Linked DNA regions of Homo sapiens. The protein of the gene in region 1 interacts with the protein of each later gene in a biochemical or structural test. Each region holds a gene or a part of one and is shown on either strand. Other genes may lie near its edges.

Region 1 (3,819 bases):
ATTTTAAGAAGTTGATAATCCAAACTGCGGGATTAAGTGACTTGCCCAGCAGCTAGAAAGTGGCAGAGCAAGGACTTGAACCCATGTCGGAAAGTCAGTGGTCCTAACCATAATGCATCACTGCCTGGGGTGAAGCCCTAGGGTCTAGTTTTTTTTTTTTTTTTTTTGTGCCAGTGCTGCCTGAGTGCTTTGAGAGGAGTTTCTGCCCACTTTGTGATTCCCAGAGGGTAGGATTCAATGAGCTACAGGAAACCTTCCAGCTGGGTGGGGTCTCTGCACATCCACACCCTTCAGCTTCAAGCCTCAGGAAGAAAGGAGCCCAGTCCCGGGTTCTTAGGGTTTCAAGGGGCCACCTGTACCCACAAAGAGGCCAAGGCCAACTTACCCTTCACCTTCTTGCTTTTGGGGATGGCATCTGCTGGGGGGGACCTTCTTTTAGCTATGCGCTTGGGTGACATCTTCCTGTCCTGAAAGTCAGTCAAATACTACATATGAGAAATGGCAAACATTTTCCTGGGCCAATCAGACAATATTTATCAAACACTCTAGAAATACGTTAAGAGGAATTGCCCAACAATTCCACTTCTCAAAATGTATCCCAAGAACAGAATAATGGATGCACCCACAGATTAATTACACAAATATTCTCTACTGTATCCTTCATAACATTTTAAAAACAACAAAAACAGAACCCGAATGTTCAATAGTAGTGAACTAAATATGTGGTATATTCATGATAGAACAGTATGAAGCCATCAAAAGTGATGTTTTCAGAGATCAATCTATTGAATAGAAAGATGTTCCCCATTGCCAAGTAAAACAAGCAGAATGAAAAACAGACGGCCAGGTGTGGTGGCTCACATCTGTAATCCCAACACTGTGGGAGGCCGGGGCGGGCGGATTACCTGAGATCAGGAGTTCCAAACCAGCCTGGCCAACATGGCAAAACCCCGTCTCTACTAAAAATACAAAAATTAGCCAGGCACAGTGATGGGCACCTGTAATCCCAGCTACTCAGGAGGCTGAGGCAGGAGAATCGCTTGAACCCGCGAGGTGGAGGTTGTGGTGAGCCAAGATCGAGCCACTGCACTCCAGCCTGGGCAACAGAGCCAGACTGTCTCAAAAAAAAAAAAAAAAAAAAAGCCTGGGCGCGGTGGCTCACGCCTGTAATCCCAGTACTTTGGCACTTTCGGAGGCCAAGGTGGGTGGATCACTTGAGGTCAGGAGTTCGAGACCAGCCTGGCCAACATGGTGAAACCCCGTCGCCACCAAAAAAAAAAAAAAAAATACAAAAATTAGCCAGGCATGGTGGTGTGCGACTGTAATCCCAGCTACTTGGGAGGCTGAGGCAGGAGAATTGCTTGAACCTAGGAGGTGGAGGTTGCGGTGAGCCAAGATCATGCCATTGCACTCAGCACTCCAGCCTGGGAGAAAGAGTAGTGAAACTCCACCCCCCAACCAAAAAAAAAAAAAAAAAAAAGGAAGAAAAACAGCCTATCATCCATTTTTTTTTTTTTTGGAAAAAAAATGCATACACAAAAAATATGTGAGAAAAATGTGGGGAAGAAAATATATCCCATATTAACAATGGTAACCTCGGAAAATGGTATTATAGATAATCATTACTTGTTTCGTTTTATCTTCCTATATTATCTAAGATGTTTAACAAGGAGCATTACATGTATTTTTCTGTTTTTTGAGACGGAGTCTCACTCTGTCGCCAGGCTGGAGCGCACAGGCATGATCTCAGCTCACTGCAACCTCCACCTCCCGGGTTGAAGCAATTCTTGTGCCTCAGCCTTCCGAGTAGCTGAGATTACAGGTGTGCATCACCATGCCCTGCTAAGTTTTGTTTTGTTTTTGTTTTTTTGAAATGGAGTCTCGTTCTGTCACCCAGGCTAGAGTGCAATGGTGCGATCTCGGCTCATGCAACCTCTGCCTCCTGGGTTCAAGTGATTCTCCTGCCTCAGCCTCTCGAGTAGCTGGGATTACAGGCACCCACCACCACACCCAGCTAATTTTTGTATTTTTAGTAGAGACGAGGTTTCACCAGTTTGGCCAGGCTGGTCTCGAACTCCTGATCTCAGTGATCCACCCCGCCTTGGCCTCCCAAAGTGCTGGAATTATAGGCGTGAGCCACTGTGCCCAGCCCAAATTTTGTATTTTTAGTAGAGACGGGGTTTCACCATGTTGGCCAGGCTGGTCCCAAACTCCTAATCTCAAGTAATCCACCTGCCTCAGCCTCCCGAAGTCCTGGGATTACAGGCGTGAGCCACTGCGTACAGCCGATTACATGTTTTTTTTTTTTTTTTTTTGAAGCAGAGTTTTGTTCTTATTGCCCAGGCTGGAGTGCCATGGCGCAATCTCGGCTCACCACAACCTCTACCTCCCAGGTTCAAGTGATTCTCCTGCCTCAGCCTCTGGAGTAGCTAGGATTACAGGCATGTGCCACCACGCCCGGCTTATTTTGTATTTTTAGTAGAGATGGGGTTTCTCCATGTTGGTCCCGCTGGTCTTGAACTCCTGACCTCAGATGATCCACCCACCTTGGCCTCCCAAAGTGCGGGATTACAGGCGTGAGCCATCGTGCCTGGCCACATGTATTTAAAAAATTTTTAAGTCTGTTGTAAAAAATTAAAACATTGAAGAACAACATTAAATGAAATATCCATCATAACTCCATTCAACCCCATGTAAGCACCAGTAACTTTGGTAATGTGTTGTTATAATCAGAGGGGGAGAAGAGCTATTTTCTTTTCTTATTTAATTGATTGATTTTTTTTAGAGACAAGGTGCCACCACACCTGTAATCCTAGCACTTTGGGAAGTCGAGGCAGGAGGATCGCTTGAGCCCAGGAGTTCAAGACCAGCGTGGGCAACATGGCGAAACCCCATTTCTATCCAAAAAATTACAAAAATTAGCCGGGCATGGTGGTGCACGCCTGAAGTCCTGGCTACTCAGGAGGCTGAGGTGGGAGGATGGCGTGAGCCTGGGAGGCTGAGGCTAAATTGAGCTGAGATTGTGCCACTGTACTTTAGCCTGGGCGAAAGAGACAGACACTGTCTCAAAAAAACAAAAACACACATGCACTGAAGATCGCGGCTGCTGTGGGAAGGTTACTCTGAGCATCAGTTGCCCGGCATGTGAGTGCCATTCCTTGGGGGCATTTCTGCCACTGCAGCCCTCAGGCCTGCTGCTTCTGGAAGAACAAGTTTGACAAACATATTGTGGTCTGGTTCCGGTCAAGCAAAATTCTGGTACCAGTTCCTCATACCATGCACCTGATGTCACCCAGCATGCGCCCTATTTTAAGGGTACAGCCGTGGTCAATGGAGAGTTCAAAGACCTAAGCCTTGATGACTTTGAGGGGAAATATTTGGTGCTTTTCTTCTATCCTTTGGATTTCTTTCTTTTTTTTTTTTTTTCCGAGACGGAGTCTTGCTGTGTCACCCAGGCTGGAGTGCAGTGGCACGATCTCGGCTCACTGCAACCTCCCCCTCCTGGGTTCAAGCCAATTCTCCTGCCTCAGCCTCCTGAGTACCTGGAATTACAGGCGCCTGCCACGACGCCTGGCTAATTTTTGTATTTTTAGTAGAGATGGGATTTCACCATGTTGGTGAGGCTGGTCTTGAACTCCTGAACTCAGGTGATCCACCCACCTCAGCCTCCCAAAGTGCTGGGATTACAGGTGTGAGCCACCGCGCCCAGCCCTATCCTTTGGATTTCACCTTTGTGTGTCCTACAGAAATTGTTGCTTCTAGTGACAAAGCTAAGGAATTTCACGATGTGAACTTTGAAGTTGTTGCAGTCTCAGTGGA
Region 2 (3,819 bases), on another chromosome or scaffold:
CCCACCAAAGCAGCATTGACATCTGGGCTTGGGAGGGGGCCTAAGGGGAGACTTGTTGTTTTTAACTCTATGCCCTACTTCTGGATATTTGGGGGCGGGGATTGTGGGCATGTGTATGTTCAAACAAAGAATGCGTTTTCTACAGCATGTATTTTCCTCCTAAAAACCCAATTTTTAAATATTTCTATTAAATATTAAAAGTAAAAGCTGTGAAATGAGATTTTGATTCACCAGAGGTCTCTAGGACATTACCATTCCTTATATTGGGAACAGCCCAGTAATTCCATGTGTACAATATGTGGAGGCAGAGGCTGAGAACTGTAACTGGTCTTAAGTGTGTGTGCTCAGTGTTGTGTGTCTTACCTCTAGGACACATCCATATTTGTGTTTCTTCTGACCACGCGGGTGGGCGGCTTAGGTGTCAACCTGACGGGGGCAAACAGAGTTGTCATCTATGACCCAGACTGGAACCCAAGCACGGACACGCAGGTTTGTTTTTATTTTTTTTTTAAAAGAATGTATTAGTAGAAATATAGTTTCATGGTTAGCGCTTTTGACTGTCCTTTGATGTTCTGGTTGGCTTCAGCATACGTTTCACATTTTGATTGTCTCCTGTTCTTCAACGTGAAAGAAGACACCCTTCAGAGTCAAATGGACAGGAACCATCTTCAGCAGTTTATCCATAGCATTCATTCCTAGAGTTGGGGTAAAAAGAACATAGGCAAAGTTACAAACATTTTTTCAAGTAGAGATGTCTTTTCAACTGGCTGTTCATCTTCCTGAGTAGGCCTTAGGTGTACTTGACGTCATGAGTCAAAATTCTAACTCTGGGAGTGACAGGTAGTGACCAGCTAGCTTTGTTTCTTATAGTCAGTGCTTGTCATTGGGAAGGATTCTCGTTGAGAGGTCTCTCTCTCTCTGTTGCAGGCCCGGGAGCGAGCATGGAGAATAGGCCAGAAGAAGCAAGTGACTGTGTACAGGCTCCTGACTGCGGGCACCATTGAAGAAAAGATCTACCACCGGTCAGTGCACACAGTGGCCACTCTTGGCTGTGCGTTCCCAGAGTCTTGAGCAGGGAATTTTTCCAAAGTGTTGTTTTTAAAAGTCTTAACATCTTAGAATAATAGTTGCTATAACTTAAGGCTTTGGTTTTTGTTTTGTATTTTTTCTTTCCCTTTAAAATATGCTTAGATGTCTTACTGTGAGTTGTCAAAAAATGTCTTTGAACCTGATAATTTTTGTACCTTATTCTACCTCAAGAATCACATACATGTAAACTTCATATTGTTATTTGAAAGGAATATTTCTGCCTGCTATGGTGTGTTGCCTTCAGAAAAATTTTAAAAAATGACAAGGTTGAATGTTACCATATTGGTGTTTACATACCACATTATGCAGGTAGGATCAGTGTGGGTGTTCTGGCAGTCTTTGACTCTGATGCCCCTTACAAAGAAGTCGACAGGATGGCTGTTTCGTCCTCTGTCTTTCCATAATGACTAGGGGATTTTAGACAGTGGTAACTTCAACAGTAGAATCAAGACATTGCCAGCTTCTCCCACTCCCCCACCACAGACTTTATCCTTGAGCCATAGCCCAGCTTTTATAGGAAGCTCTGTGCCCTTTACCACATGCTGGGCCATTCCTGGAACATTACATCTTCCTCGAGGGAGTGTTGTGTGAGGGTGGAGGACGAGTTGGATCCTGTGAGAAGAGAGCTTCCTTTTATAGATTCATGCTTTAGCTGGGAGAATAAATGACAGGGAGGGACAGGGTGGCTGGTGGAGGTGCCTGTTCCAGAGTGGCAGTGGTGTGGGGCTTCAGCAGAGTGTGGACCTGCAGGTGGGAGCAGGGAGAGAGAGGTCAGAGTGGAGACATTGCAAAGCCCAGGTAAGAGAGTTTGCTGAGCCCTATGATAGGAAGGTTCTAGGCAGGGCAGGACCCTTGGTATTCAAGTCAAGGAGGCTAAGAGAGACTATGAGTCACATGATGGCATGTGAAAAGGTGTTTCTTGAAATGTGTTAGATCTTGGAGGTTGAAAAAGCTCATTCGGTGTAAATAATAAGGTATTATTTCTAATTTAAATTCTGCAAGACCTGGGAGATTAACTGATGTATTATATATTTCCTGAATTGTAATTTTCCAAGGCTGAAAGTTTGGGGGATTATTTAGCCATTCATGCAGCAGCTGTTATCATCTCTCTCTTATATTGCTTTATAACTTGAATTTTTAGGTAGAGCTACACATTGTTTTATACCAGCTTATCTTTTATTTTTTTAGACAAATCTTCAAGCAGTTTTTGACAAATAGAGTGCTAAAAGACCCAAAACAAAGGCGGTTTTTCAAATCCAATGATCTCTATGAGCTATTTACTCTGACTAGTCCTGATGCATCCCAGAGCACTGAAACAAGTGCAATTTTTGCAGGTATTACATAAAATCATTTAATTTAAAGTAATCAATTGCACAAGATGATACAATATAGTATTAGTGGTGTTTTTCCTCTTTACAGGAACTGGATCAGATGTTCAGACACCCAAATGCCATCTAAAAAGAAGGATTCAACCAGCCTTTGGAGCAGACCATGATGTTCCAAAACGCAAGAAGTTCCCTGCTTCTAACATATCTGTAAATGATGCCACATCATCTGAAGAGAAATCTGAGGCTAAAGGAGCTGAAGTAAATGCAGTAACTTCTAATCGAAGTGATCCTTTGAAAGATGACCCTCACATGAGTAGTAATGTAACTAGCAATGATAGGCTTGGAGAAGAGACAAATGCAGTATCTGGACCAGAAGAGTTGTCAGTGATTAGTGGAAATGGGGAATGTTCAAATTCTTCAGGAACAGGCAAAACTTCTATGCCATCTGGTGATGAAAGCATTGATGAAAAGTTAGGTCTTTCTTACAAAAGAGAAAGACCCAGCCAGGCTCAAACAGAAGCTTTTTGGGAGAATAAACAAATGGAAAATAATTTTTATAAGCACAAGTCAAAAACAAAACATCATAGTGTGGCAGAAGAAGAGACCCTGGAGAAACATCTGAGACCAAAGCAAAAGCCTAAGAACTCTAAGCATTGCAGAGACGCCAAGTTTGAAGGAACTCGAATTCCACACCTGGTGAAGAAAAGGCGTTACCAGAAGCAAGACAGTGAAAACAAGAGTGAGGCCAAGGAACAGAGCAATGACGATTATGTTTTGGAAAAGCTTTTCAAAAAATCAGGTAATCCATTTGATACGTTTGCCACAGGGATGCTAGGATTAGAAAATGAGTAGGCTGTTTCTAGCAGTAGCAGTCTTTAACTGATGGTGCATAGAGGGCTGTCAGCCATTAGTGTTTTTCTTCAAAAATTTAGATTTGAAATATATTGACATTTTAAAAATCGTATTTACACCTCTTTTCTGAAGACCTAGAATAATTTGAAACTTTGGAAAACAATAGTACTTATGGCCACTCATGGGAGGTGTGCAATTCTTAAATCGATGTGTACTACCTGAACATTAGTAGGCAGTTACTTTACATGCTATATGCTACATTAATCTGATTTTCCAACCACAGGAGATTAAAGTAACATCATAAGGGAGAGGGACAAGCGTGTGGCTAGAGACAGACATTCTAGAAGTATGAAAGCTGATAGCTTATGTCAAGGGAGAAAAGTTAGGAGATGTAGACTCAACAATTGCTCAAGACCATGGAGTATATAGATAGCCCTGCTTAGTGATCCCTTAGCAGTCACTGTGTTCACAATGTGATGGCCTTGAGTTACCAAAGATTGCTGCTTATGGTACTCAGTTTAAGAAGGCAGGTTTATGTGTAGCATTTCAG

What was found.
Region 2: the proteins of RCC1 (region 1) and ERCC6 form a complex in vitro, tested with the Homo sapiens proteins (one large-scale study listed by BioGRID).

Annotation. Positions count from the first base shown.
Region 1 is NC_000001.11:28,526,506-28,530,324, reverse strand, and holds part of RCC1 (regulator of chromosome condensation), read right to left. Parts: exon of another isoform or gene 3,712-3,819; intron 3,392-3,711; exon of another isoform or gene 3,087-3,391; intron 468-3,086; 5' UTR 459-467; coding exon 386-458; intron 1-385. UniProt on the Homo sapiens protein: Guanine-nucleotide releasing factor that promotes the exchange of Ran-bound GDP by GTP, and thereby plays an important role in RAN-mediated functions in nuclear import and mitosis.
Region 2 is NC_000010.11:49,469,579-49,473,397, reverse strand, and holds part of ERCC6 (DNA excision repair protein ERCC-6), read left to right. Parts: intron 1-369; coding exon 370-489; intron 490-927; coding exon 928-1,022; intron 1,023-2,277; coding exon 2,278-2,423; intron 2,424-2,508; coding exon 2,509-3,216; intron 3,217-3,819. UniProt on the Homo sapiens protein: Involved in repair of DNA damage following UV irradiation, acting either in the absence of ERCC6 or synergistically with ERCC6. Involved in the regulation of gene expression.